Linked DNA regions of Homo sapiens. The protein of the gene in region 4 purifies or fractionates together with the protein of the main gene of each other region. This does not show direct contact. Each region holds a gene or a part of one and is shown on either strand. Other genes may lie near its edges. The genes, in order: CHERP, GPATCH11, RBM5 and RBM17.

Evidence for each region.
Region 1: the proteins of RBM17 (region 4) and CHERP purify together in Homo sapiens (co-immunoprecipitation; 5 studies listed by BioGRID and IntAct, with this or other methods). This does not show direct contact.
Region 2: the proteins of RBM17 (region 4) and GPATCH11 purify together in Homo sapiens (affinity purification with mass spectrometry; 3 studies listed by BioGRID and IntAct, with this or other methods). This does not show direct contact.
Region 3: the proteins of RBM17 (region 4) and RBM5 purify together in Homo sapiens (co-immunoprecipitation; 3 studies listed by BioGRID and IntAct, with this or other methods). This does not show direct contact.

Annotation. Positions count from the first base shown.
Region 1 is NC_000019.10:16,518,438-16,525,486, forward strand, and holds part of CHERP (calcium homeostasis endoplasmic reticulum protein), read right to left. Parts: coding exon 6,805-7,049; intron 4,854-6,804; coding exon 4,615-4,853; intron 3,218-4,614; coding exon 3,084-3,217; intron 2,916-3,083; exon of another isoform or gene 2,476-2,915; coding exon 2,389-2,475; exon of another isoform or gene 2,071-2,388; coding exon 1,927-2,070; exon of another isoform or gene 1,829-1,926; coding exon 1,712-1,828; exon of another isoform or gene 1,657-1,711; intron 1,279-1,656; coding exon 1,184-1,278; intron 916-1,183; coding exon 722-915; 3' UTR 1-721. UniProt on the Homo sapiens protein: Involved in calcium homeostasis, growth and proliferation.
Region 2 is NC_000002.12:37,079,402-37,087,770, reverse strand, and holds the start of GPATCH11 (G patch domain-containing protein 11), read right to left. Parts: upstream 3,254-8,369; 5' UTR 3,201-3,253; exon of another isoform or gene 3,185-3,200; intron 2,448-3,184; exon of another isoform or gene 2,379-2,447; intron 1-2,378. Other genes in the region: HEATR5B (HEAT repeat-containing protein 5B), read left to right, coding at 4,357-4,482.
Region 3 is NC_000003.12:50,112,419-50,119,777, reverse strand, and holds the end of RBM5 (RNA-binding protein 5), read right to left. Parts: intron 6,396-7,359; coding exon 6,234-6,395; intron 5,829-6,233; coding exon 5,679-5,828; intron 5,599-5,678; coding exon 5,527-5,598; intron 4,351-5,526; coding exon 4,171-4,350; intron 3,873-4,170; coding exon 3,798-3,872; intron 3,757-3,797; exon of another isoform or gene 2,705-3,756; coding exon 2,607-2,704; exon of another isoform or gene 2,529-2,606; coding exon 2,399-2,528; exon of another isoform or gene 1,530-2,398; intron 1,448-1,529; coding exon 1,322-1,447; 3' UTR 757-1,321; downstream 1-756. UniProt on the Homo sapiens protein: Component of the spliceosome A complex. Binds to ssRNA containing the consensus sequence 5'-AGGUAA-3'. Regulates alternative splicing of a number of mRNAs.
Region 4 is NC_000010.11:6,091,602-6,099,357, forward strand, and holds part of RBM17 (splicing factor 45), read left to right. Parts: intron 1-5,446; 5' UTR 5,447-5,464; coding exon 5,465-5,587; intron 5,588-7,756. UniProt on the Homo sapiens protein: Splice factor that binds to the single-stranded 3'AG at the exon/intron border and promotes its utilization in the second catalytic step. Involved in the regulation of alternative splicing and the utilization of cryptic splice sites.

The DNA.
Region 1 (7,049 bases), on a different chromosome or scaffold from region 4:
GGCTACATTCCAGAAAAAAAATATCAACTTATACAACTAAAATAACTGAACTAAGGGCCAGTACGCCTTCGAAGAATTAGGTTTCAGAATCTCACTGGGCCTCCTCTCAGGTCAGTATTCTTCTTTCTAGACCTAAACCAAGGAGAGTAAAAATGAAAACCCTGCTTCACTTCGCAAGTCAAGTCAAAGTTTTGTGTTTCTGTTTTTCAATCCGCGGGCAGTCATGGCACTGGGCTTCGGCTTTGTCCCTACACAGCCGAGGGGAAGCCAGGTCAGGGCCGGTGGGTGCGGGGAGCTGGAGGAAGGAGCTGGGGTGCCGGCTCTGGCTCAGGCCAACCCTTCCTGCACATGCTCCTCCTGGAGCCTAGGAGGAGGCTTCAATCTGACTTAGGGCAGATGCACATCCATCCCTTCGTGGCTGAAGAATTTACTCGGGCGGAGGGTCTTGTGTTTTTTGCTTCGCTATAAAGGAAAACGAGCCTGGGGCCCTGGTGGCTGCAGCGCCTCCTGGTGTGGTTTGTGGGTGGCACCCGTGCCCTCCACGCCATGGAGCACGGCGTTCCCACTGGGCATGCGCTGGTCTTCCTTCTCTTCCTGTGGCTCTCCACAAGTGGAGACGGTGTAAGAACTGAGCTGTCACTGCAATCTTCCTCTGCCAGTCAGCCAGGAAGGTCCCACAGCCGGCACCGCTGGCCACCGGCGCGGCTCCCGGCATGGGCGCCTACTTACACTCGTCCCTGGCCTTCATGCGGGCGATGAAGGAGTAGCTCTTGTTCCTGCGGTAGTTCTCATAGGGGTCATCCAGAGCCACGCCCACGCCTTTATACTGGTCCCACTTATCCCGGACGTCCCCGCCCTTGATGGGGTCCTGGATCCCTTGCTCCTTCGCACCGAGGCCGCCTGAGCCGCTCCAGCCTGGAAACAGAGACGCAGTCACAACCACAACAAGGCGGAGGCAGATGGGGGTGCACGTGGGGGGCTGAATGTCCAGACAGGCAGTGTAGACATGGGAAATGGGTAGAGAGAACCCGCAGGCCGGCCCTGTCTAGAGGGTCTGGGTGGAGTCAGAACCGGCCTGACTCCATCCATCCCCACATGCACTGAGGAAGAGAAAGCGCTGGTGACTCCCGGGCCCAGCACGCGTGAGGACCCATCCCGCGCCCTCCCCATTCCCTCGCCTTACCCATCTTCACCAGCATCTGATGGCCTTTGTTCTCTTCTCCGAGCCTTGAGTCAGGGATGGGAGGCGCCGAATTAGAACCCAGACCAGCAGAGGAACTAAAATCGAGACAGGTTATTCTTTTTAAGAAGTAACTGAGACATTTATTGGAATGACAGTGATGAGGACCTCACAGCCGCAGCTTGCGTGCATGCTCACTGTCACCAGGTGACACCGTATGCAGATTTTGCGTCTCTACCCGTTTATCCTGTCTCAGCTAGATAAGGGGGCTCCAGACGCTGGCCCCCACCCCACGCTCAGCATTGAGAGCAGGACACCTCCAACCCAGATGGTGGTTAGAAAGCAGACCCCAGTTACTGCCTCAGGCTTCGCCAAGTGGCTACTGTGGTGAAGGGTGAGGGGTGCCACTGTCCCCGGGCTAATGCTGGCGGCCTCCTAACACAGTCTCCTAACCACCAATGTTTCCACATTCACAGCAAAGCACCGCAGCTTCCCAGAGTTACCAGCGCAGCACTTAAGACAGGATCTTACGGCGGGGTGGGGCTCCTGGACCGTGACCGGCGTCTTCTTCCTGGGGAGTACGACTTGGACCGGGACCGCGACTGGGACCGGGAGCGGCTTCTGGAGGAGCGCGACCTGCTCCGACTTCTGCAGGGAAGGGTGCCCAAGGGTCAGCAGCAGCCAGGCGTCGTGGGGAGGCCACAGGAAGAGGCCTCAGGCACTGCCCTGAGGCAGCCTCTGCCTACCTAGATCTGGAGCGGGAGTAGGAACGGGAGCAGGAGCGCGACCTTGACCTTGAGTACGAGCCTGAAGACTTGGAGGATCTTGAGTTGGAGCGGGAGGAAGAACGCCCTCGACTCTTGGATCTGCTCCGAGACCTCGAGGGTCCGCTGTGGGGAGAGGCCTGATGATCAGGTGCCCCAGTGGATGGGCTGCACCCAGCCCACCCTGGCCCTCAGGTTCCTAGACCACCCCAGATGCAGGGGCTCTGGCTGTGGATGTGGCGCCATAGCCACAGCAACGGTACCAAGTTCCTAAATAGTGTGGCCGAGCCTGCTGCTGTGTGAATTCAGGCCTTGTGGAAAACACCGCCCCATAGGCACAGGCTGTGTGAGGGTGGACGTGATGAGTGTATCTGGGGTCTGCTCCCACCCATCACAAGCTGTGGACCCTGGCCCCCCGGCCACTGCAGACATCTGCGCTTTTACCTGTTCCTCTTCTCCTGGCCTTTCCTCCGCCGGGCCCGCATTTTTGCTCGGAAGAACTCATAGAGGCCGTTCTGCTCCCAGCCTTCACTGTAAGACACGGCATTCCGTGTGTGACCACGTGACACCCACCCACAAGGAAGTCGTGAAAAAGTCATCAGGAGTTAATCCACAGAACCTTGGAGAGTACATGGCCCTGTGGCTGTGGGCTCCGAGCATGGGCGCAGTAGAGCTTGGTTCAGTGTTCCCACAGGGCTGTCCTCCTGCAGCCCAGTGGCTCCTCTGGTGCCCACGCCCTTGCCACCCTGCTGTTCCGCTGAGGTGGTGGGGACCCATGGTCTGTGGAACTGGGAAACAGGAACACTGACTCATGGGTGGACAGGCCTGCAGCCCAGCACAGGAAGGAGGGGTGACCACTGGGAAGGGTGGGCTGAGGGCCCTGTGGCAGCCGGCTGCTTGAGACGTGCCGCCGTGCCACACCTTCCCTAACTTCTTCTGATGTGTCTCCATTAAAACGCCCTTCATTGAGGGCCACGTGTGTGCTGTGCCTGTGACACACACTTGTCACTCAGGCGGGGGGAGGGCAGTTTCTCCTGAGGGACAGCCACATTTTCTAGCCTGGACAGAAGGTGTGGTTGCAGGGAGCCGGGAGAGGGGACAGAGGCCTCCCGCCCACCCCACTGACCTGGGCCCCTTACCTGTTCCTGGGCCTGTCGTGGGACGGGGGGCTGTAGAAGGCCTCCACTGCAGCCAGCAGCCTCTCGCTGGGCGGCATGGGGGGTGGGAGGCGGATGTCTTTAGGGTCCAAAGGCTTGTACTCGTGATCTTCCAGCTGCAGCAGAGAACCCCAGCTGTCACCATGCCTGGGCAGAGCCCTCTCAGGCCCACCCAGGGTCTGCAAGGAGTGGGGTCAGGGCAGGGCCCAGGTTCAGTGTCAAGGGTACCCTGGGCACCAGAGCTCCTCATGCTTCCCTCTTGGGGATCCCACTCTCTTGTAGGACCTCAGCCACACCAACCATGGTGGGTCATAGCTGCTCTGAGGCTGATGACAGTCACAGGGTTCTCTCTTCAGAAAATCACCCACAGGGGACATGGTCTCCAAACTCAGGTGACCTGAACACCCTCTGGTTTATTCAGACATGCAGCGGGCCCCTCACGTCACCCTTTGCTTGCAATGCCTACCCTGGGCCCCCGCTCAGAACAGCCTCAGCCCCGGCCCTGGAGCCCCCTGGCCTGTATCCTTCTTCTGCTCCGTCTCTGTCCTCCTGTTGAGGCCCTGCCCTGCCTGGCTTGCCTGGGCCCCCGCCCGCAGCTCTCCCTGCTGCCCATGGCTCCGTGAAGTCTGCCTGGACTTCAGGTGGATGTGTCTGAGGGGGTGGGAAGTGGCAGTGGCCAGCATGCCCTTGGAGGCCCCAAGCCCCGGCCCTGGCCTCCCCAACCCCCCCTTTTTTTTTTTGAGACGGAGTCCTGCTCTCGCCCAGGCTGGAGTGTAGTGGCGTGATCTCGGCTCAGTGCAAGCTCCGCCTCCCGGGTTCATGCCATTCTCCTGCCTCAGCCTCCCGAGCAGCTGGGACTACAGGCGTCTGCCACCACGCCTGGCTAATTTTTTGTATTTTTTAATAGAGACGGGGTTTCACCGTGTTAGCCAGGATGGTCTCGATCTCCTGACCTCGTGATCCGCCCGCCTCGGCCTCCCAAAGTGCTGGGATTACAGGTGTGAGCCACTACGCCTGGCCAGACCTGGCCCCTTCTTGCCTCACCTCTTGCCCTATGCTCCGGCCATCCCACAGTGGTACCAGCTGCTGCCAGCCCTGCCCGGCTTCTCCAGGGCCACCCCCCTCCCTGTGTGCTTGGTAGGCACAGCTCACAGGTGGCTCCTTCTAAGACATTCCCTCCATCAGCAGCCCTGGGACAAGGTGCTTCTGAGGCCCTGGACCAAGAAGGACGAAGAGAGGACTCGAGCCTCATAGCCTAGCTAGCCCCACATGGCTGAAGCTCCCTGTGGTGGGAGGGATAGGAGGGGCAGGGCAGGGCAGACATGGTGTCGCTCACAGCCACACCGTGCTACTCCGGTTCGGCACCTCCCACTGACGGATCAGGGTCCCTAGGGAGTGGGAGATGAAGGGGAGCCCCGGAAGGCACCCGGTCCCGTGCATTCACTTTTCACAAGGAGAAACGGGGACCAGTATGGTAAGCGTGCTCAGCTTGGAGCCCACTGTGGGGCATTACCTTCACGAGGGGGGCCATCAGCCCAGCAGGGAGATCGAAGTAGGGCACATTGGGGACCAGGCTGGGGTCATCGTGGTTGATGTGGGGTGGGCCCTGTCGCCGCATGTGTGGGGGCTGCCCGTTGAAGCCATGGGGGGGAGGGCCGAAGTCAGGGTGCTGGGGTCCAGCCCAAGGCGGGTGCTCGTTGATGCCAGGATGAGGCATGCGGTGGCCAGGGTGGTGGTGAGGGGGCCCCATTTCTGCAAAACAGAGACTTGCCTCAGGACCACAGGCCAGTCAGGATCTCCCAGGCGACAAGTGCTGGAGGGGAGGGGCTCAGTGAAGGGCCAGGAGACGAACCCCTCCTGGGAGCCTGTCCAGCATCTTCTCTCACTGCTTAAGACCAGGCAGCAAGGCACCGAGGAGCCAGGCTCCGAGGGGCCTGTCCCGCACCCATAGGCACAGCCGAGGGAGCTTGAGGCTGAGAGAAGAGAACCCCAAAACCCCAAAACTGCACGGTGAGGGCTAAGTTGTGACCCTCCGAATCCATACGCTGAGGTCCCAGCCCCCAGTAGCTCAGGACGGAACTGTATTTGGAGACAGAGCCTTCAAAGACACAAATGAGTTAAAATGAAGCCATAGTGGCCCGAATCCAACGTGACTGTTGCCGTTATAATAAGAGATTAGGACACAGACATGTAGAGAGAAGACGGTCACCTATGAGCCAAGGAGACAGGCCTCCAAGACACTAACCTGAACCCGCCACACCTCCACCTTGGACCTCCAGCCCCCAGATCCTTAAGACAATACATTCCAGCTGTTGAAGCCGTCCAGGCTGTGGGACTTATCATGTCAGCCCAAGCCAAAAAGTAAAAGCAATAAATGTGCCAAGCGGTCTTCAAGCTGCATTTATAATCAGAAATGTATTTAAAGAGAGAAGGCTGGGCATGGTGGCTCACGCCTGTAATCTCAGCACTTTGGGAGGCCAAGGCGGGTAGATCACTTGAGGCCCAGAGTTTGAGACCAGCCTGGCCAACATGGCGAAACCCCATCTACTAAAAATACAAAAATTAGCTGGGCATAGTGACTGATGCCTGTAATCCCAGCTACTGAGGAGGCCAAGGTGGAAGAATCACTTGAACCCAAGAGGAGGCTGCAGTGAGCCGAGACTGTGCCACTGCACTCCAGCCTGCGTGACAGTGAGGCTCAGTCTCAAAAAAACAACAAACAACAACAACAAAAGGCCAAGCGAGGTGGCTCACACCTTTCATCCCGGCACTTTGGGAGGCCGAGGCGGGCGGATCACCTGAGGTCAGGAGTTCGAGACCAGCCTGGGCAACATGGTGAAACCCTGTCTCTACTAAAGACACAAAAAATTAGCCAGGCATGGTGGCGCACACCTGTAATCCCAGCTACTCGGGAGGCTGAGGCAGGAGAATCATCTGAATCTGGGAGGCGGAGGTTGCAGTGAGCTGAGATTGTGCCATTGCACTCCAGCCTGGGCAACAGGGTGAGACTCTGTCTCAAAAAAAAAAAAAAGTACTAAAAGATTAGAAATAAAATCAATAACAAAGATACTAGGCATGGTGGCTCACATCTGTAGACCCAGCTACTCTAGAGGCTGAGGTGGGATGACTGCTTGAGCTCAGGAGTTTGAAAGTAGCCTGGCCAACATAGCAAGACCCCATCTCTATTTAAAATAAAATAAAATTTTTTTAAAAAAGAAAAGTAGTTTTTTGTTTTTTTTTTTTGAGACAGCGGTCTGTCGCCCAGGGTGGAGTACAGTGGTGCGATCACAGCTCACCGCAACCTCAGCCTTCTGAGCAGCTAGGACCATAGGCGCCCGACACCACGCCAAGTATTGATTTTTTAAACGAACTAATACAACGGGAAAACTGATGCAAAAAACAAGCAGCAGCAGTAAAAAGAACGAGGCCCCGCCCTGCCCTCGCCACGCCCACCCACGGCAGGAACCTTTTCCTACTGGCTCTGCCTCATCTGCAGCCAGCCGGGCCTCATCAGGGCGGCAAAACTGAGTCTGTGCCCCCACTTCCTGAGAACCCAGGCCGGGCTCCTCGGACGTCCCATGACCCTGTGTCTGTCACTGTGCACTCAGGAGCATGGCAGGGCCACAAGCAGCGCCACCAGCCTGCTCGGCAGGCGAGCCGTGGATGCCTCCGCCAGGCCCTACCCAGGCGCCCGTACACTCACCGGCAGGGAAGTCCCCCTGGGGGTAGTCGAAGCGGTGGGGATAGGGCGGCCGCTCGAAGGGGTGCCGTGGCGGGAAGTCGTCCTGCATGAAGCGGGGCGGGAAGCGGTTGAAGTTGTGGGGGTGCGGAGGCTGGTTGAACTGCGGGTGCTGCTGGTGGGGCGGGAAGGGCCCCCGGAAGTGTGGGGGCCGCTGCATGCGGAAGGGTGGCTCGCGCTGGCCCCCGCCCCAGGGCGGCTGCTCGTGC
Region 2 (8,369 bases), on a different chromosome or scaffold from region 4:
GCCCCATGGCTCCTCACTGCCCTCTGAACAGAGTACAAACATTTCTTCCCTGTAGGCCAAGGCTACCCTCCCTTCAGAAACCTCTCCTGACCACTCCAGGCCTTTCTCTACAGCACTTTATGTCCAAGCTGCTCATTTGGAAGTTGATATAGTTAACAACTCACTTATGTGGAAATATTTTGAGGGACAGTTTCTATCCAAAATAGTTAAAATCATGTAATTATTGGCCCTTAAAGGGTTAAAGTAATTTTCTACAAAAGTACTTCTCAAACTTTATTGTGTATACAAATTGCACTGAGATCTTCTTAAAATGCAGAATCTGATTCTGGGGCTGGAACCTGAGGTTCTGCATTTCTAGCAGGTTCACAGGCAATGTCAATGTTGCTAGTTCAGTTGCTTAAGACAAAAGTGTATTCACTTGTTGTGGTGCATATGTACTGTTTTTTCCTGCCTACCATCTTTTCCTTTGGGAATCCAACCCTCTGCCCTTCATGTGGTTTTAGTGGAGGGTGGCAATGTCAGTATCCCATATTTCCTTGGGCACAAAGATGGTCAATTATAGTACTCTATGTCCAGCACCAGGGGACGAGATGACCCAGCCAGAGAAATAACCATCTTTTTCCTTACATTATATGAATATATGGGTTGTGGGGGAAAGAAGGTCTTTTATGGGTGTTTCTGAACTGGGAGAATGTGAAGCTGGGCTGTGGATGGCCATCTTCTTGGCCCCATGAAGGGATCTTGTCTGAAGAATGAAGCCAGATAGAGAAAATGAGCCTAGTTTCCAAGGCTGCGGATTCTTTGAAGCTGCGACTTAGCATTCTACCCCATTACATAGACTAATACATTTCTGCATTACTTAAGCTTGCTGAAGTAGGGTTTCTGTCAACTGCAACCAAGTGTCTAGACAATTACACTGGATGAAAAAAGGATTACTATACTAATTTTTAATGGTTTTCTTTTTTGTTTTTTGAGACAGAATCTCGTTCTATCACCCAGGCTGGAGTGCAGTGGTGTGATCTCAGCTGACTGCAACCTACACCTGCCGAGTTCAAGCAATTCTCATGCCTCAGCCTCCCGAGTAGCTGGGATTACAGGCATCCACCACCACACCCAGCTAATTTTTGTGTTTTTAATAGAGACAGGGTTTTGCCATGTTGGCCAGGCTGGTCTCAAACTCCTGGCCTCAAGTGATCCACCTGCCTCACTCGGTCTCCCAAAGTGCTGGGATTACAGGCGTGAGCCACCACACCTGGCCTGGTTTTTTATATTTTTAATGTATATCTTCTCAACTAGATAATGTATATCTTGTGTTAAACACAAAGACAAGTCCCCTATATCCTCCCTACCTACCACTGCATCCCAAACACAAATGCTTAATAATTGTTTAGCAACAATGAGGATAAAAAGGGTCTTTAATATTTGTAATTTTATAACTTTTTCCTATGTCAACAAGTCATTTTTAAACACTTTTTAAATACGTACAGAAAACACATAAAACAAATGTACAGCTTAATACATTTCTGTGAGTCAAACATTCTTGTAACCATGTGGTACCCTCCAAAATGACTCCCAGTCATTCTTGCTGTGTGGTTTTCTACATCCTTAGTGTAGTCTCCTTCCACAGTGAACAGGATTAACCTGTGTAACCAACAGGATTTTGTGGAGATGATGGAGTTGATTTTTTGGTCATAACTGCAGCTCTTAGGTCATTCTAACTTTGAAGTTAGATGACTCACTTGAAGGAAGTCAGTGGTCACATAATAAGGATACTCAAGAAGCTCTATGGAGAAGGTCACACGATTGGAACTGAGTCCTCCTATTAAAAGCCAGCACAAACTCATGAGCCACAGGAGTGAGCTACCTTGGAAATGGATTCTCTTGCTCCAGTCAGGCCTTCAAATGACTCAGCCTGGGCTGGCATCTTCACTGCAACTTCTTAAGAAAGTCCATGCTAAACTAAGCTAAGCTGCTAACAAATTCCTGACCCATAGAAACTGTGAGATAACAAATGATTACAGTTATCTTAAGCTGCTACATTTGGGGATAATTTGTTATGTAGCAAAAGTTATCAGGAAGTAGAACCTTATCAGGCACCTGGGAGCCCTCTTTGTCCCCTATCCAGTTGCAACTCTCTTTTGGTTCTAAGAATAGTCACTATTCTGTTTTTTATGGCAATCATTTCCTTCATTTTCTCGATAGTTTTGTCATCCACGTGTGCATCTTTAAACATTACAGTTTAGTTTACCTATTTTTATTATAAGTTAAAAACGTGCACTATTATATACAGCATTTATGGTAATTCACCCGCTTCCTCTAAACCTCAGATTCTTCATTGGTAATAACAGCATTTTTACACATAATGGTTTAACACTTACCCAGTATATCACACATTTTTATCACATTTAACCACCACTAACAACTCTACAAGGTAGGAAGAGTTTTTCCTGTTGGAGAAATTAAGGTTCAGTATGGCTAAATGACTATTTCAAAACCACAAAGAATCCGGGTCATAGTGCCTTGCAAATAGGATTACATTGTTTTTAAGAGACCTACTTAACTTTAAAGTGCCAGGCACATCTGAATGGGGTTACAGGTTGCTTTTAAAGCTCTCTTTCTATTGGTAAAATATACTTTAGCATTATCCATTTCCATCAAAGATAAGCATAAACTTCACAAGGCGATACCCTGGCAGAGATGATGGAGGCTCGTACCAGAGTGATAGCAATGCAAGTGGTCGCATTTGGGGTACACTTGAAGGTAGAGCTTACAGGATTTGCTGATGTTGTAGGTAGTACGTAAAGAACGATGTCAAGATAACGCTAAGTTTTTGGCCTGAATACATGGAAGAACGGAGTTAACGTTTTTTGAGAGTGGGAAGACTGTAGGAGTAGGTTTGTTTTTGTTTTTTTAGGGGGCGTAGTCGGGAAACAGACATATTGAGAGTCCCATTACATATACAAGTGGAGAAATGGACCTACAGTATAAATGTGACAAGAAACGTCCCACTCTCAATACTACGCTCAGGAACCGCTGATCCCTTCCCTCACGCGTTCCTCCTGGCTGCAAGCGTCCCACAGACGCAACCACCCACGGATGGAAAAGTGGCTGACGGTGTGATACGGTAGTCATGGCCAGCGCACTCTGCCTTTTATCATTCTACCGGTTGTCCCCAGACCCTTACCTGACAGCTCTCTTACCTGACAGCTCTCTGCTCGCCCCGGTTCAGCGCCGTAGAGCGCGCGCTGCGCATGCGCCCACCGACCAGCGTCGGACTTCCGGACCTCGGCTCCCACCAGTTTCCTAGTGCAGACTCTATTGGAAATTCGCGGCGGGTGGGGATAGGAGGACGTGGTGACTGCGCTTGCGCAAGACCAGCCCTCCGCGCAAGCGCTCTTCCCTTGTTTCCTGCAGGTAGGAGTGCGGGAGGTGGGGCATCCGGGTCTCTTGGTGGCTGCTTCTACCCCCGGAGCTCAGCTGATCTTCCCTTCCAGACTACGAGGTGAGGTCGCCGAAGCATGCATGTTGACACGCACGGACTCCTGTCCGACGTACATTTTCAGACGGGTGGGGAAGACATTTGAGTTCGTAATGAACATTTTCCCTTTTCTGGCTCCGTGCTTAGTTCCGAGCTGCCGCCTCGTGCTATTGACAGCCTGCGGAACCCCACGGAGGCTTGCGGCGGCCTCTTGGTGTTTCCCCGGGTCCGCCGCTTGCGGTTCTTGGAGTAGCCAGGTGAAGCCAGACCCCGAGCGCGCGAGGCTTCTCGGGTGCATTCCGGACCGCCTGGTGTTGTCACTGACGCTTCGGCCGCCGGGCCTGGCCGCCCCACCCATCCGCGTAGGAAGAGTCTTGGAGACCTGCAGTTCGGGATGTCTGTGCTGGGTGTTTTGACCTCAGTCCCTCTGGCCAGGTGCAGCGCGGGAGGGTAAAGGTGCTATGTACCGAACCCTGGACGAGAAAAAGAGGAGGATGGTTGTCAAGCCCGGCTGGGGTGTTTGATCTTAGTGCTTCAGTTTTTTCATTTATAGAACGGGTAAATGACATATGTGTTGCTGGACATATTTCTTCTGGAATAATGCCTTTTTTGGCAATAATTTCTTTTAATTTTCTTTTCACTCCATGAGTCACTCTTCCTTACCAAGTAGTTTTCTTCTGTTTTTGTTTGTATTTTTGTCATTTAAAAGTATGTTCTCAGGTTTTGCCTCAAAGAAGTTGAGTTTTTCCCCAAATGAAATGAGTAGTCCTACTTTTCTTAGTGAGTATATTCCATTAAGCTTGACTTTTAACATTAAAAAATACTTACAAGTATTTTTTACTCTGTTAAATTTAAGGTGTGAATTTCAAACTTCCGTAATGGAGTTAGCCCACAGTTTATTGCTAAATGAAGAAGCTTTGGCTCAAATCACCGAAGCAAAAAGACCAGTTTTCATCTTTGAATGGTTGCGATTTCTTGATAAAGTCTTGGTTGCTGCCAACAAGGTATGGTATTGCTCTTTTTTCCCAGTTGCATTAACGTGAAGAGATTATGTGGTCATGATTCTTAAGAAAACACATGTTATGTTTTGGAAGGTTTATGGGTCACTTATGGAACTTGAGAGTATTACACGAATGGGAAATTTAGTGGCAAAACTCAAACCTCGTTTAAATCCAGCTCATTGCCTATCTTCTTTATGTTTGTACCTGGGCAGCTCATTGTAACTGGAGAAAAACATGGCTATATGACTGGTGTCACTTTAAATTTATCATCGTCACCCGTTGCAAGTGATCTCTCTATGCTGCCTAACAATCCCAGTGTCTTCACTTATCTCTTTGAGGAGTCAATAATAGGCTCTTTTTTTTTTTTAATCTGTTTTTTCTTCCTGCATAGCCTTGATTTGCCGAGACCAGCTCGTTTGGGGAGACCCTAACCTAGCGGCGCTAGAGGAATTAAAGACACACACAGAAATATAGAGGTGTAAAGTGGGAAATCAGGGGTCTCACAGGCTTCAGAGCTGAGACCCCGGAACAGAGATTTACTCAAGTGTCTATTAACAGCAAGCCAGCCATTAACATTGTTTCTACAGATATTCGATTAGCTAAAAGTATCCCTTATGGGAAACGAAGGGGTATGCTGAAACAAAGGGGTGGGTCTGGCTAGTTCTGTGCAGCAGGAACATGCCCTTAAGGCGCAGATCGCTCATGGTATTGTTTGTGGTTTAAGAGCGCCTTTAAGCGGTTTTCAGGCCAGGTGTTCCTTGCCCTCATTCGGGTTTCGTTATGGCCATCATGAACATGTCACAGTGCTGCAGAGATTTTATTTATGGCCAGTTTTGGAGCCAGTTCCCAACATTGATTCAACTTACTTTTTATTGTCTGTGTATTTTATATTCTGTCTTTAAAAGTAGATATGGCCCGGCATGGTGGTTCACGCCTGTAATCCCAGCACGTTGGGAAGCTGAGGTGGGTGGATCACCTGAGGTCAGGAGTTCCAGACTAGCCTGGCCAACATGGTGAAACCCCGTTTCTACTAAACACTGCTAAAAGTACGAAAATTAGCCAGGCGTGGTCGTGGGCGCCTGTAATCCCAGCTACTGGGGAGGCTGAGGCAGGAGAATCGCTTGAGCCGGAAAGGCAGAGGTTGCAAGGAGCCGAGATCGCACTAATGCACTCCAGCCCGGGGGACAAGAGTGAAACTCCATCTGAAAAAAAAAAAAAAAAAAAAAAAAAAAAAAAAAAGTAGATACTTCCCTCAAATGTCTGATGATCTTTGGCTGCCTGATCAAATTTAAAAGTGAGTAGTAAAAACTTTTCTCAGCAGGGCCAGTCTTTTAAACTGGACTTCACTGTAGGCTAGTTTGGTCCCTGACCTTAGTATTTTAGGTTTCTGTAGGCTAGTCATTCCCCAGAAGATACTTTTCTACTGTCGTGTCTGAAGAGTATATAGCTAGCTGGCTACATTCTTGGAGTTGTGGGAGAAGACTGGGGACTTTAAAGTTCAGTATGTGAACTTTCACTGCATCTCCCCATTTTCAGTGCAGTTTTCCCAGACCGCAACTGTGCCTGGACTCTTCTAGTCTGGACATACAATATTTCACTCTTCCCAGAGAATAAACTTTCAGTCTGCTTCCATAATGAAGAAGAGGATTCTTTCTGCTTATTAGACTCTCAACCATTCCCTCTATCTCAAGGTACATACAACTTCACTCCCACCTCCAAAAGCACCTAGGGCTTAAAAAAACCGTGATCTCTTAGGGGGTCCTGTGTTGTAAGTTAGGTCATTTTGCAGCTTTCCCTGTTGGGAACAGTTGGTTTCCAAATACTGTGTTGATTCTTTCTCCTGTTTTCTTTACCCTTTGGATTTGTGCTTTGTTGTTATTGTTCCTGTTGTTGTTGCTACCCTTTAGTATGGTTTTAATGGAATTTCTATAGAAACAGTCAATGCATGACCTAATGTAAATGACGAGTTAATGGGTGCAGCACACCAACATGGCACATGTATACATATGTAGCAAACCTGCACATTGTGCACATGTACCCTAGAACTTGAAGTATAAAAAAAAAACAATGCATGGATTCACTTGTAATTGTCAACTAGACGTTTCTGTTTTCTCTTAAATCCTCTACAACTGGGGATTTACTTCCACTCCACTGAAACAGCACTTGTCCAGCCATTACTGATGACAGATTGCCCAGAACAGTGGTCAGTATTCTGTCTTATTTGATCCATCTCCATCTTTTCACCTTGAAACACTTAAAACGTCTTTAATTTTGTTCTGAAATTGATAAATACAAGAGTGTATAAAACAGGAAGCATAATATGAATATCTGTACACCCTCCACCCAAATTAAACAATAAGATTGTTATCATTGCTTTGCACAGTTTGTGTGAAGTTTTCTTCCTGTTCGTGGCTTCCCAAGACGCTGTTAGGTTTTGGTTCCTCTCCCACTTCACTAACTACTACTTCTTGTTCTTTTTTAACTCTTCCTCAGTTCAGGGCATTTTTTTTTTTTTAATCTGTACATATTCCTTCAGTGATATCATCTAATTGTATGATTTTTACTATCATCTATAAAATAATGATTCCCAGGATAATGTTTACTCCACCTCTTTCTTATCTAAGTGGCATCTCAGAGTTAACATACCCAAACCAAATTCTTGATTTCTCCTCCCAAACCTGCCCTTTCCCCCATGTTCTCTATCTCAGGAAATGACCATTTCATCCTTCTAGTTGCTCAAGGGAAAACCATAGAGTCATTTTTGACTTCCCTCTTTTTCTCAAATTTCATGTTGTATTCACCAGCAAATCCTATGGTTTCATCCACAAACAAATCCAGAGTTTATTTATCATCTCTATGGTTACCGCTATTATCTCTCATCTGGATTATTGCATCTGCTTCCTATTTGGTCATGATGCTTTCCATTTATGGACCATATAGAGTATTCTTAGAAGTCAGAGTGAGCCTGTTAAAAACATTTAGATCACGACCCTCCTCTGCTTCAAACTCTTACTCAGAGTAACATACAAAGTTCTCTTACTGAGAGTGACATACAGAGTTCTATAGTGGGGTGCAAGAGATTACCTGATGTGGTCCCTTCTATCCTTCTGAATTCATCTCTTACTACTTTCTCTTACTCCACTGCAGCCAAACTGGCCTTCTTGGTGTCTTTAAGGATGCTAAGAATGCTCCAACCTCAAGGCCTTTATACTTGTTCCTTCAGCCTGGAATGTTCTTCCCCTGGGTATCTGCATGGCTCACCCCTTCACTTCTTTTCAGAGAGAGGCCTTTTCTAATTAATCCACGTAAAACAGTAACCACCCATACTATTCATTTGTTTGTTTGGTAAACTCTGTCCCTCCTCACTAGAATGTAAACTTAATGAGGGCAGGGACTTGTTTGTCTATTTTGTTCACTGTTGCACCCTAGTATGTGGCATACGTTAAGTACATAATAAATATTGTTTGAATAAATAAATGAATTCTAGATATTGATTATGGGTAGAGCTGGGTATTTTTTTTTCCTGTTGTCTAGGGCTCTTCAGTTTCTTTTGGTTTCATTTGCTGACCTGTAACTTTATGAACTACTGACTTCACTTTTACATAGGAAACCTATCTGGGTTGTAAGACATCAGTTGTCCATACACCCAATATTTTGCATCCTTTGGCTGTTGGTTTATTTCTTAGTAAGTTGGTCTCATAACTTTTTGAATCAGAGTCACTTTATTGGAGCTAACCTTTTGGCTTTGGAGGAGCATGAAGGAGAATATTTAATGTAGGAAAGAATGGCTCATTTCTTACAGAACTTTTCATTAACTTGAAAATTCTCACGGTTTATGTTTAATACAATATAGATTTTTAATTATTAGAGTGCCTTAAGTGTTAAGTGTT
Region 3 (7,359 bases), on a different chromosome or scaffold from region 4:
ATGCTAAACTTTTTTTTTTTTTTTTTTTGAAACGGAGTTTTGCTCTGGTTGCCCAGGCTAGAGTGCAATGGCGCGACCTCCGGCTCACTGCAAACTCCGCCTCCTGGGTTCAAGCAATTCTCCTGCCTCAGCCTCCCGAGCAGCTGGGATTACAGGCCAACCACACCCAGCTAATTTTGTATTTTTAGTAGAGACGGGTTTCTCCATGTTGGTCAGGGTGGTCTTGAACTCCCAACGCCAGGTGATCCGCCTGCCTCGGCCTCCCAAAGTGCTGGGATTACAGGCGTGAGCCACCACGCCCGGCTAAAACATGTTAAACTCTTGAATTTAAAAATCCGAACATGTCAAGACCAGCCTGGGCAACAGAGTGAGGCCCCATCTCTGTAAAAAATTAAAAAATTAGCCTGCATGGTGGTATGTGCTTGTAGTCCCAGCTACTTGGAACACTAAAGTGGGAGAATCGCGTGAGCCCGGGAGGTCGAGGCTGCAGGCTCCCGAGTAGCTGGGATTACAGGTGCACACCACCACGTCTGGCTAATTTTTTTGTATTTTTGGTAGAGACAGGGTTTCACCATGTTGGCCAGACTGGTCTCAAACTCCTGACCTCAGGCAATCCACCTGCCTCGGCCTCCCAAAGTGTTGGGATTACAGGTGTGAGCCACCACGCCTGGCCAACCCTGCCTCAAAATCAATCAATCAATCAATCAGAACGTGGTGATGGGGGCAAGAAATAAACTGATTTCATCACCAGGCTTGACTGGCTCAGACATGCTTGACCCACCTACCCACCCAAGAATAAAGAGACACAGGACACCCATTTCTCAAGGTATTTCTTTTGTAAAGGAGCCAGATTTGGCAACTAGACTGAAAATCTTCCAAAATTCTGTACAAATGTGTAATATACAAATATACACAAGGCTTTTGCCAAGAAAAGACATCACAACAAATGACAGAGGTGGCTTTGGTGTCACATACCACCTACAGCATCTCAAACCCCTAGGAATGTGAGGGGCTGATGGACCACAACATAGGCTACACATGTAAACACGCTACATTACACTATGTACACTGGAGTATAAACAATCCACTGTCCTCTCCGGTCTGTTCACAAGCCCTCTGGCGGGAAGGAAGGCCATTCACCAGGCAACCCACATAAGGGGAACTTCTTTAAGGTGGGAGGGAGAACCCTGCAGAATGAAGTGGTTCACCCTAAGATCTATTAACAGCACAAGGCATGCCCTTAAAGAGACAGGCGGTAACAGCGAATTCGGGAGATGGACCACTTCTTGTGCTCCTTGTCATCTCTCTCTCTCTCTCTCTCTCACTCCATCTCAGTGAACCGGGCAAACATGGCTTTCCGGACAGCATCTTTGTAGGAATCGGCGCCCGACAAACCATATGCGCTGCCTTTGGCTCCTAGGCCAGCTCCCTTTAGCCGAACTTGAGCCTGGGAAAGCACAGAGACTGTCAGCTGGGAGGTAGGGTATGGGCTGCTCCACCTCTCACCATGCCCACTCCTTACCCAGCAGGACCACCCACCAGGAGACAGAAGAGAGAAAACTGTATATGAAGACAAGGATTTCTCCAGAAGAGACCAGGAGCAAGTATAAGGACTGGAGGAATAAAATGGGCTACGGAACACAGGCAGATGAAGCAAATCACCCACCCCTCAATGCCTGCTCAGCAAGCATCCACGCCTAGGAAAGGGCCCCAAAGTATTCCTCTGAAGGTCTGGGAAAGGTATGGTAATTACAGGCACACATTATACAGGATAGCTCAATGTCAGCAGAACTCACATAAACAGGATGAACATGGTCTACAAGAGTCTGACCTAAGCTGTGCTCCCAGGACAGAGCAGGGGCAATTACGGGTGGAGCTCCTGCCTAGAAGGCCAGTGGGTAGGGGCCTCCGATCCTGGGATATGATGCCTCAATGTGGGCTCTGATCAATTTAAAGATTTCTTATCATGGGTGAAAACCCTACTAAATTTTTTTTTTTTTTGAGACAGAGTCGCTGTTGCCCAGGCTGGAGTGCAGTGGCGTGATCTCGGCTCACTGCAACCTCCTCCTGCCAGGTTCTAGCAATTCTCCTGCCTCAGCTTCCTGACTAGCTGGGATTACAGGCACACGCTGCCACGTCCAGTTAATATTTTGTATTTTAGTAGAGACGGGGTTTCACCGTGTTGCCCAGGCTGGTCTCAAACTTCTGGGCTCAGGCAATCCACCCTCCTCGGCCTCCCAAAGTGCTGGGATTACAGGTGTGAGCTCATGCCTGTAATCTGCCCCTTCATGCTAAGGTAAAGCTGCTCCTGGCTCCCAGGCTCTATGAGTGCTCTGATCTCATCTCTGGAACCGGCCTGTAAGCCTGGCAAACATCAAGACCTGACCCCACTGCTTACCTCAATGGGAGCCGTAATGCCTTGACACTTTCGTCCCAAGCCAGAGCCTTCCCGCCAGCCCATGGCCTGCAGCATCTTGTTGCCAATGTTACTGTGGTCAATGCCATCTTTGGTGGGTTGCTCGTAATTCCTGCCAGTGGCAAACACACAGTTACTTAAAACAGCCAGGGCCCCAGCTTACGAACTGGAAAATGTGCACATCACATACACAGTGCCGGCATCAAACTGCTTCTTGCGCTTGGGCTCTGGAGGTTCTGGAATGCCGTACTTCTCCCGTCTTTCTGCAGCTCGGTCTCGGTATTTCATCTACATGGGAGAAAAAACACTGCTGGAAATGTTCACAGACTTCAACCTGTAACCGTCTAATGCACCTATTCAAAACTATCCCCTCAAGTATTTTTAAATCTGAAGAATGCTTTTTTTAGACTGCTCTGAAATACCAAATTCCCTTGTTCCCATCATCATACCTAGTCATATCTGAAATGTTAAATTTGTAAATATGAATTGTGTGGAACCAGGGGCAGAACTATGTCTCCAACAAGCAGTTTTATTTAATTAGCCACCCTCTGTCAAGCTACTCAACCAGCCCACTGGGCAGTGGGTACAGCTTGCGAAGAGGAAGGCAGAGTTGCCCGTTCTCCTCAGCATTTGGACAGGCATACCTCCAACATTTGGAAAGGCATACCTCCAACATCAAGGAGGCTTCCAGAGACCTGTTCAGCAGTCGCTGGGGAGGTGGAACCATAGATAGTAGGGCAGGAAGGGTGTGGGGAGAAGAAAAGCAAAAGCCTTAACTACAAACACTTCAGAAATATCTCAGGTGGGAGATTTCAAACCCACTTGCTCATTTCTAAACCACAGGCCTCTATTTGCATTTAAATCCCTGCCCACCTGGCCGCCAACCTGCCCCAACCACCAGCACTAACTGCTTGCCCATTATTGTGTCACAGGCTTCTCTCTTGCCTTTGTTCCCAGATCTGCTTGCCATGCCCTGCCCACCCTTCCTTTCATATCACCTGCAATAACCTCACGTCCTGCTGTCCCTTGGGATTAATTTGAAGCGCACTTCTTTGCCCATGAAGGCTTCCCTGGCCAGGCCAAACTAGACCACTCTCTCCATAACAAAATCCAGCGTATTTAAGCAGCAAGCTCTGGCATTGCTGTGAGAGAGTCTCGGCAGTGTGCTTCTGCCTTGTGCACCCTTATGATGAAGGGACAATGTGAGGCTCACAAGGCACACAGAGGCTGGGTCTAGGCTACATGAACTACAATGGTCAGATGACAAGGGTATGACAAATCCTCCTACCCTGCCCCTGGGATCTGGAACTAAATGCTACAAATAAAAGCTAAAGGCAATTATCCCAATATCCTCTTCCTTGTGGCACAGTTTCCCATTCACCTCTCTCTCCCTTAGCTCCAAGGCTTCCAGCTCCTGCTCGCTCAGCCTGGATCGTCGATAGATGTCCATGTTTTGCTACACAAAAGATTTGAAAGACACAGTAAGGACTCAGACCATCTTAATTTGAAATGTCCTAACATTAGTAACATCTACTGTACTTTAAGAGCCAAAGCCCAAACAATACACAATCACATAAAAACTATAGTTTGATGTGTGTGGAGCTGCCAGACTCCGTCCACTGTCATCGGGAACAGCTTTCTGTAAGGCCATCATTAGATGGCAGGTATTTTTGGAACCGTCAGGACTGTTAGGGCACTCAAATTGTCTCACTGCCTCCCCTCGCCCCCTCAGATCAGCTCAGAAGCATGGCCACCTTGTGAAGGTCTGAGAGTTGCTGGTGCCTGACTAGGGCATCTTTGTTCGGGAACTGGCGCCGGCAGAGCAGACAGGCCATCTTCTTCCAGTCAGCTAGCTTCTCTTCCTCACTCTCAAGTCTCTCCACCAGCTCCTCCTCATTGTCACTGTCACCACTGTAAGCAGCAACCAGACCCCTCTGGAGACAAAAGGAGGACAGGTCACTGGAAATGTACAATAGGAAGATGGCGGTGGCTATGTACCTGGATAAAGTAATGCCTCATCCGAAATGTTAACAAATCCCCATTACTGCATGTCACACTTTAGTAATGAATCACATTTTGTCAACTGCGTGGAGCAGTCAGGTCCTTGAGTGCTAGGCCTGACAGCCTCCTGGTACCAACCTTCTTGGAGCCTAAGAAATGGATTCCTGGGTGACTACCTTTTTCTATTTCTTTGGAGAAGGAGTCTCGCTCTGTTGCCCAGGCTGGAGTGCAGTGGCGTAATCTCAGCTCACTGCAACCTCCACCTCCCAGGTTCAAGTGATTCAAGTGTCTCAGCCTCCCAAGTAGCTGGGATTACAGGCGCTTGTCACCACCCCTGGCTAATCTTTTGCATTTTTAGTAGAGATGGGGTTTCACCACATTGGTCAGGCTGATCTCGAACTCCTGACCTCAAATGATCCGCCTGCCTTGGCCTCCCAAAGTGCTGGGATTACAGGTGTGAGCCACTGTGCCAAGACTGTTTTTGTTTTTTTTTTTTTTAAATGAGACAGGGTCTTGCTCACTGCCCAGGCTGGAGTGCAATGGTATGATCCCCAAAAAGTGCAGTGGCTCACTGCAGCCTTGATCTCCTGGGCTCAAGCAATTCTCTTACCTTAGCATCCCAAGTAGCTAGGAGTACAGATGCAAGCCACCACACCCAACTAATTTGTTTCTAATTTTCAGTAGAGACGAAGTCTTGCAATGTTGCCTAGACTGAGTGACTATTTTCAAACCACTGACCACAAATAAAAATCCCAAATACAACATATCAGAATAATGGCCCACCCAGACCAGTATCTATCTAGTAAAACAAGCTTTTTCTTGTCTTAATTTTCTCTTTCCAGACCATTAAAACTCTCCACTCACAGATGCAATGAAACTTAATTAACTGAGCTTAGGAATTGAAGCTTCTTTCATCACTCCATCTCATCTGCTCTCACAGAAAACAAAGCCCCGACATGGAATCTATGTGCAGAAACTGCTCCAATACCCATCAACAGTGATCACATTCAGTTTTAAGTAGGAATCACATTAGCCAAGATGCAGTTGAGCCTTAAAGTGAGACACAAACCACAGATAGGGTCTTTAAAACACTGGTGGTACTCCCTTACTTTGAGGGGATTCTCCTCATCTCCATTTCGCACCAATTCTGGGATGAGCTGCTGCCTTTCAGCTAAGGCTCCCTGGGAAACAGAGGACAAGCCATGAGACTCAAGTTTTAGGTAAGTTCCCATCATGACATACTGGCCATTCCTGCTATTACCTTCTTCTCAAAGAGAGCAAAGCCAGCGTCTGCTGCAGCAGATTCTCTCCTTTCTTCTTCCCTCAAGGAATTGACAGGCTGAAAGCTATTTTTAAAGTTTTCTTTCTGCTTATTCAAACTCTTAGCCCAGCGTTCCATGTCTTTGGCAATCTAATGTCAAACAACAAACACCAACAAAAAAATATTTAATCCCCTGTGCCATGAGAATGAGCCATTAAGGATCTTATCTCAACTATATGCCCTGTAACAAACCCCTTTTACTCTTACTTCCACCTACAAATATTTCCATTAGATGTTATCACATATAACCAAAGTCATTCATAAATACTGCTTGAAAAGCTTTGAGATTTCCAGGGCTTTTTTCCCTAAGTACACAGGCTGACAGTCAAGATATGGTAACAATAACAAATTGCAAAATGCTCTAAGAACTTAGTATGAATAAAATGTGAAGCCCAATTTTTAAGAATCCAAATAATACTGACATAAATGCTACAACCCCAAAACTAAGAGTTCAGCCCAATACCTCAATGAAAGAAATATGGGTCATGTTCTAACCTGCTGGGCTGTTTTGCTCTTGGGTTTCTCCTTCTTCTCTTTCCCCTCTTTTGCAGGAGGCAGGCCCGACTGCTGGTGGGAGCTAGACTCTGCAGCTGGCACGTAGGTCTCTTTTTCCCCATCCCAGTAAAGGTACTGCTGGGTCAAGGAATTATAGTAGTACTAGAAAACAACAAACAAAAAACAATTAATGCAGACTTTCTGCTATGTCAGTCGATTACATATTTTGTCAAAAAAAAGATAAAGTATGTTGTGGACTAGTGATATTTCCTGCCCAGAAAAGACCCTGGGCACACCTTGGTATAAGTAAAGGTGATGAACCACCTAGCAAAGAGGTGTGACACTGCTAGAGTAAAAATAGAATATGATTTCTTTAAAAAGTTTAGTTCCCAGCCGGGAGCAGTGGCTCATGCCCGTAATCCTAGCACTTTGGGAGGTGGTGGTGGGCAGATCACCCAAGGTCAGGAGTTCAAGACCAGCCTGGCCAACATGGTGATAACTCATCTCTACTAAAAATACAAAAATTAGCTGGGCATGATGGCACACCTGTAATCCCAGCTACTCAGGAGGCTGAGGCAAGAGAACTGCTTGAACCTGGGAGATGGAGGAGGTGGCAGTGAGCCAAGATCATGCCACTGCACTCCAGTCTGGGCAACAGAGTAAGACTCCATCTCAAAAAAAATGATAATAAAAATTTAAAAAGTCTAGTTCCCATTAATTTAATCCCTGGGCCTACCTAGAGGGCACCCAAAGAGCAATTTGTCTCACTCTGTTCCACAGACTATTTACATAAACCAGGCAGCCAGAACAGGTGGGCGTGTCATGGAGTTCAGACATCTGCCATGACAACAGCTCATCATTGGGCCCATCCACATAGAATCCATTGGATACCAGGCAACCACACACAGGGTGTAAACACTAGCACAGAGCTGGAAGGAGGTGTTGGTGAAGGGACCCAAGCTCAGCAGGAATTGCAACAGAGGAGAGGTGTCACATATCCTCTCCTCTATTTTCCAGTCGCTCACTCTATCTGCTCAACAGGGACCCAGGAGACAGTGTCTGTCTCTTCTGGGTAAGGTGGCGTGGCTAACAGACACAACTTTTTTTTTTTTTTTTTTTTTTTTTT
Region 4 (7,756 bases):
GTTTCATAATAATGTGATTTAAATAGGTGCACTAACATTTTTCATCCATTCACTAACACATTTAAAAAATATTAATAGAGCCACTTAACAATGTTCAAGCATGGTGCTGAGCTAGAGATACAAAGCTGAACATAAGAAACACCCCTGCCTTTAGGGGGCTTACACTGCAGGAAGAAACCGCTGTGTGAAACAATAGGCAGCATAACTTGCCAAGGTTGCTGTGATCTGAGTATGCTTGAGGAAACCAGTTGGGGGGGGTTAGTTTTATGTGGGGGCAATAGTCACTAAAGGCTTCTGAGATGCACTTGAAAGATAAGTAGGTGGGGTGCTTCTGAGAAGACTCTTCCATGTTCTTTTTCCTGCCAGTTGCACATGTTTTAAAAAAATACTTTCCAGCTTGGGTGGAATCTTGAAAACTCACCATTCTTCCTTCTGGCAGAACCATGTTTGTTATGTTTCCTAAGAAAAAATGTAGCATATATGAAACGTGGGTTGCTCAAAGGGAAGTGTTGCCACAAAAAGGAAGGAAATAGCAAATATTTTAAAGTTATAAAAACCAGCAATTTGTATTTACTTTTGATCCTGGCTTCTTATGGTATATCCAGTTGTTACAAAGTACAGCTTTTTGTTACCTGGCAGCAGACCTAATGAAATAAATGTGTTATGTTGTCTAAGTAATAATGTCAACGTTAATTAGGGTAAGTTTGGGTCTTGGCAGTCTTATTAATGTACTTATTACATTTCAGTAGTTGCGGTGGGGAGAATTAATGAACAAACTATTGTATATTAAATGCTTAATATAGCGAAAATAAAGAATACACACTTTTTAAGGAATAGATTAACTAAAACTGTAAATAAAATTAACATAAAAGGAGGAAAGCAAGGAAATAATGAGAAGAGGATTCCGGGGAAATTACATGAATGGGTTGGGGGAGTAGTATGGTTGAGTGTGGTTTCTTAGTCTAGATCCTGTCTTGTTTTGGGTGGTGAATTCACAGGTGCTTGCAGCATTATAATAATTAAACAAAAGCAGGTAATAAGTGTGTGAATGGATGAGAGTGTGATGTTACTATGATTAATCCCATTCTGTGAACTTAAAATTCAGTGAAAATGAGAAAAACGAAGAAAGCACTTTTGCATTTGCTGTGATGCAGAGATTTGATTTTATAAGCTCAATGTTACAGAAAACTAGCAGGTGCTGGTAAGATGACATCAGTTTCTAATATTTAAAGCGTTTTGCAGGTTTGAGAAGAGAAATGAGGACCTTTAAATGAGCATGAGATTTGCTGCCTGATGATTTCTGAAACTTTTGCGCAATGCAGCAAATCAACTGGAATTGTCAGTCAGCCATCTTAAATGACATGGAATCAGAGGAGATGTGTGGTCTCATAAAATCTCATTAATTCACTATTTAATTTTTGCTAAATATTGAATCTATTGATGGAAGAACTGTTGGCAGCTGAGATCTAGTACACTGCTAGATTTTTAGCCTCAAAGTTTAGAGAACTCTTTTCATCAGAGTTGACTCTTCTGGGGAGGGTGAGGAGTGTTGCCTCCCTCTCTGGGGGTTACTTCCTTCCCTTATTCCCCAGTGCTGCCTCTTTGCCTATTTATTTTTTATTTTATTTTTTTGAGACAGTCTCGCTCTATCATCCAGGCTGGAGTGCAGTGGTGCAATCTTGGCTCACTGCGACCTCCGCCTCCCGGGTTCAAGCAATTCTCCTATCTCACCCTCTTGTCTCAGCTGGGACAGGACTACAGGCGTGCAGCACCACACCTGGCTAGTTTTATATTTTTAATAGAGATGGGTTTTCACCACGTAGGCCAGGCTGGTCTCAAACTCCTGACCTCAAGTGATCCGCCCGCCTCGGTCTCCCAAAGTGCTGGGATTACAGGCATGAGCCACCGCAGCCGGCCCATTATTAGTATTTTAATAAAGCTTATTAAATGCTTGCTATATGACAGAAATTGTAGATGCAAAAATAAATAAGTGAATCTTTCCCCTCGAAGTTTAATGGGCATTTGGTTAACCCATTTCTGGTGGCACTAACGTATTCATAAACACTTTCGGTAAAGTTCTCAAGTTATAAAGAGAAATGGGTTGAGTATCCCTTACCCAAAATGCTTGGGACCAGAAGTGTTTCAGATTTCGGATATTTTTAGATTTTTAGAATGCCTGCATATACATAATGAGATACCTTGAGGATGCGACCCATGTCTAAACACAAAATTCATTTATGCTTCATATATACTTTCTACACATAGCCTGAATATGCAATATATGTCATACTTTTAATAATTTTATGCATGCAAAAAGATTTCACTCTGTTTTTGACTGTGACCCATCACATGAAGTCAAGTGTGGAATTTTTTTTTTTTTTTTTTTTTTTTGAGACAGAGTCTCACTCTGTCACACAGGCTGGAATGCAGTGGTGCAATCTTGGCTCACCGCAAGCTCTGCCTTCTGGGTTCACGCCATTCTCCCGCCTCAGCCTCCTGAGTAGCTGGGACTACAGGTGCCCGCCACCATGCCTGGCTAATTTTGTTTCTGTATTTTTAGTAGAGACGGGGTTTCACCGTGTTAGCCAGGATGGTCTCGATCTCCTGACCTCGTGATCCACCCGCCTCAGCCTCCCAAAGTGCTGGTATTAGAGGTGCGAGACACCGCACCCGGCCTGGTGTGGAATGTTCTACTTTGGGGTCATGTTGTTGCTCGGAACGTTTTAGGTTTTGAAGGATTTCAGATTTTCATACTGGAGATAGTCTGTATTGAGAAAAGCAAATATCTAGAGTTTAGTTTGAGTTGCAAACAAATTTTGATTTATCTTTGTGATTTCCCAGAAAGTCGCATTGTTTATTTCTCAGAATCTGTTAGTATTCCCTTTCCATTTTAAGAATAAAGAAAGAACAGAAGAACCTGTAGTTCAGTAGGCTTTGGTTTGCTGACCAGTTGGATGAAGAGGGCTCAAAAGATTAAACTAAGTTAGATGAAAGGTGCATGGTCATTTCTGAAGAAATGTGTTTGGGAGCCACAGTGCTAAGCTGGACACTCAGCATGGTTTTTCTGTGCTGTTGCTCTGTTTGAGTTTTCTTAGATTAAAATTTAAGGGTATGTATCTAGATGTGAACAATGAGTTTTGAGTTCTGGGTAAGCTGGAAGAAAAGTGTACAAAAGCCTCAAAAGCTGTTTGGTGCAGTGTTGTTCCTTCTGGCCAGTGATTATTGGCCAGAAATTTCTAATTGAGAGGGCTTCGCAAATGGAGTATAAACTGCAGTTTGGCCTCATTTCCTATTTAGCTGTGGGTTGGATATTGATCTTAGTCTGGGGATAGAGCAGTGAACAGAACAACCTGGATCTAGGTTTTCTTGGAGTTCAGAGTTATTAAACTAGGCTCTGAAGTGGACATCAGGGGATTCCCTCCAAGACTTTGAGGACATGGTTATATTTCATCCATATTTCTTAAGGAATGGAGTTCATTATTTTTTCTTGATTTGGCCTCAGTGCTTCAGGCCTGTCACGAGACATCCCCAAGTTCCTGAAAAAGGTCAGTTTTGCACTGAAGACATCTATCAGGAGGAGAGTCTGTCTGCATCCCGGCATCCCTTCATTCTTTTCTTTTCTTTTTTTTTTGGCGGAGTCTTTATCTGTCACCCAGGCTGGAGTGCAGTGGTGTGATCTTGGCTCACTGCAACATCCATCTCCCGGGTTCAGGCGATTATCATGCCTCACCCTCCGGAGTAGCTGGGATTACAGGCACCCACCACCACGCCCAGCTAATTTTTGTATTTTTAATAGAGACAGGTTTTCACCGTGTTGGCCAGGCTGATCTCTTAACTCCTGACCTCAAGTGATCCGCCCACCTATGCCTCCCAAAGTGCTGGGATTACAGGCGTGAGCCACCGTGCCTGACCATCCCTTCATTCTTATGTGATTCATTTGAGCAGTCGGCCATCAATACCCCTGGACAGTCTGCTTTCCCTGCTTCTCTACGGCCTTGCGGGGACCTTTCATTTAAAAATCAAAATGGAGAGGTTTTAGTTAATTTGAGGGTTCACGTATGAAGGAATGGAAGAAACTAAAAAGTGGTGACAGTTTTCTGGGGTGCTGACTTCAGGCAGGGAGTTACTGTACTTAAGACCAGGGCAGTTCTTCTGAGGGAACAGAAGTTGGTGTGCACTCCGTCCCCCACTCCACACAGTGTGGTACCAACATCAGCGAAGGTGTTGGGGCGGCAGGGTCTTAGAATCCCTGTAATGGGGGAGCTGAGAAGTAAGAGTACCTTCAAGAGAAATGCTTGCCGAATCAGACCTAAGGAGGGTATGTGTTAAATATTTTCCTCCTCTCCTGAGCCACAGAACACAAGCAAATTAGGCTTTTCAATAACACGGTTTCCATGGGAAAATGCTTTATGGGCCCCCTGGGAACTGACAGACTTATTTGTCCATAAACTGGGAACTACTGTGCTAAGCATTTACTTGCAATTTGTGGGTTTCTGTTTAAATTAAGTTCTCTTTCTGTCTGTGAGATTGATTTCTTATTTGAAGAAGTAAGCTATGTTGGTGGGTTTCAGAATGTTGATTTTTTTTTTAAAAAGTGGCAGTTGGGGTTCACTGGCGAGGGCTCTGGAGTTGGCCTGGCTGGGTTGGAAGGGGCTTCCGCTGTGGCCTTGGGCAGATTGATTCCCTAAACCCCAGCATCCATGTCTGTGCAGTGCTGGGCTTTCATGGGACCTGCTGCCGATGCTGCATTGCATGTCATGCTTTGCGCCTGCTGACTCGGTTTTTGTTTCCACGTGTTCCTCTGTTCTGCACGGAAGCTGTGTGTTGCTCGTTCACATGCAGATTGTTGATTGTCTCTTTGTAATCACTATCATTAAAGATGACAGATTTCCACTTGGTGTGATATGAGGAAATCAGAGTATTTAAGATGTAACCAGTCTACTCCCCCCTTGATAATTGTAATTGACAAAATCACATCTAAGAGATCATTTCTGTCATTTTTTTCCCTAGGAGTACGTTTAAATTTTTTCTTTATAAAAGGGTAGCTAATTGTGCTACATCAACCTGCTAATTGGTGTTTTTGTAAAGCTTCTACTTTTTGGCACTGACATAAATAGAATTTTTTAAAAATTGGATATATGTAATTAATAATGTTCCAATTCTTACCTCATTATGTGCCCTAGCATTGAAGGATTTCACTCATGGATCACTTGACTGCATGATCTTATAGATGGAAAAATGAATTTTAGAGGCTTATTTTAAAAATAATCCATGGTCTAGCTTCATGTATCAGGAATAGCCCTACATTAATGGTACCAGGAGCCTGGGCCTCTGTTGCTGAAAGGTCCTGGACCTTTTACCTCTAAAATTTCATGATACTTATTTTAACATGAAAAGCCTTTATTGAATTGTGCATTCTTTAATCCCCACCCCTTTTGCCTTTCAGCATTAAACTGAAGAAAAGATGTCCCTGTACGATGACCTAGGAGTGGAGACCAGTGACTCAAAAACAGAAGGCTGGTCCAAAAACTTCAAACTTCTGCAGTCTCAGCTTCAGGTGAAGAAGGCAGCTCTCACTCAGGCAAAGGTAAAGACAAGCCCAGAGCATGAGAGCAGAGGCCTCCAGAGTGGGTTCCTCATTAGGATGACAAGGAATTTGGTTTCAGCTTGCTCTTCTGCCTTTGTATTGGGTAAATGGTGTTAAGCATTTGTAGGGGGAGAGGAATGAGGAGTTTAAGGCCACTTTGCTACTCCTGGCTCCTGGGAATAGGAACATTTCGTGGGGTAGGAATGAAGAAAAACAGTACTCTGCGGGGGCTGGGCGCAGTGGCTCACGCCTGTAATCCCAGCATTTTGGGAGGCCAAGGCAGGCAGATCACGAGGTCAGGAGATCCAGACCATCCTGGCTAACAAGGTGAAACACCGCGGGCGCAGTGGTGGGCACCTGTACTGCCAGCTACTCGGGAGGCTGAGGCAGGAGAATGGCGTGAACCCGGGAGGCAGAGCTTGCAGTGAGCCGAGATCGCGCCACTGCGCTCCAGCCTGAGCGACAGAGCAAGACTCCGATTCAAAAACAAACAAACAAACAAACAAAAAAACAGTACTCTGAACCAGCAGTGACACTGCTTTTCAAACTTAAGTAGTGGAGGTCTAAGATTGAGTGAGAACTTGTTTAAGGTGCTAATTTTGTAGCCTTACTCCTGATATTCTGGTAAACTGTAGTTCAGGCTGGAGCCCCAGGAGTGGGAATTTTTAAGTAGCATTCCTACTGGTTTGGTGGAGGTAGTTTGGAAGCAGCACTTTGGGAAGAAGCTCCACAGAATACCTAAGCTGCTGCGTGCAACTTATTGAGGGCTCAGGTTGATTGTGAAGGCGTCAGGCATAGGTAGTCTGGATGCTGATTGCTTTTGTTTCTGTTGTGTACATGTTGGGTATTGGCAATGTCCTTGAAATAACATGTAAAACATTAAAAACCTAGTTGTCGACTGGATATTTGCCATTAAAATGTAGGCATGAGAATGGTATTATGGTTTGTTTACTACTTTAGAGATCTTTATGTTCTAGAGTATGCATTCGTAATGGAGGCTATATCCCCCCAAACAGAGCGAATATTGGTCTTTTTGGGGGTGAAAAAACCTTGCTCGTGTTGTGCACAGTGTATCTGTGGTGTGAAAATTTCATGTGCGGGAGAAAATTTAGTCAAAGGCTCCTTGCTGGGGAGGCAGTAATTAAAGTTGAGAAAAAGTACTTTAGAGATGTGTACTGAAATATTTACCGATAAGATGATGTCATTTTTGGGATTTACTTCTAAACAATTCAGTCCCGGGCAGGGGAGGGAGGGAAGAACAGAACTACCCATGAGTTGATAATTGTTGAAACTGGATGTGGATAGTAGAGACTTAAGAATTAATATTAATCTCTAATTTCATGTTTGAAAATTTCCGTAATACACAGGTTTTTTGTTTTTTTTTTTTTTTTTTTTTTTTTTTTTTGAGACGTAGTCTCACTTTGTAGCCCAGGCTGGAGCGCAGTGGCATGATCTCAGCTCACTGCAAGCTCCGCCTCCCAGGTTCACGCCATTCTCCTGTCTCAGCCTCCTGAGTAACTGGGACTACAGGCGCCCACCACTGCGCCTGCGGTGTTTCACCTTGTAAGCCAGGATGGTCTCGATTTCCTGACCTCGTGATCCGCCTGCCTTGGTCTCCCAAAGTGCTGGGATTACAGGCGTGAGCCACCGTGTCCGGCCAATACACAGGTTTTTTTTCTTAAAAGTTCTACTCATTTTTCTTTTCCCTTTACCACATCAATAGATACTTACATGGAAGTGCTTACATTTGATTGTTCAGTATTGTAGAGAGGTTTTTTTGTGTTTTTAAAATTCATCATTACCAAATTTAGATTTTTTGGATGCCAGTATTTTGTGTTTTTTTTAAAACAAGGTTTCATTCCAAATGTAAGGAGGGTTAGCAAAACCTCGTTTTTCTCTTTAATTTTTTTTAAAAGTACATTTATAAAATCTTTGTAGATTTCATGTAACTTTTGCTTTGCAGGGAAGATGCAGGTGTGAGCCACCGTGCCCGGCCTCATATAGATTTTTAAAACTTGAGGTAGCTTGTGAAGTTATTTCTACTAACTTTATAAAACTTTTGAGATTGCTATGTACAGTTAGTTTTGTGGGTTTTTTTTTTTAAGGGAAGTGAAGATTGCATTCTCTTAGGCTGTTTAGTTACTCAGAATACTAGATTGGCCTAGCCAA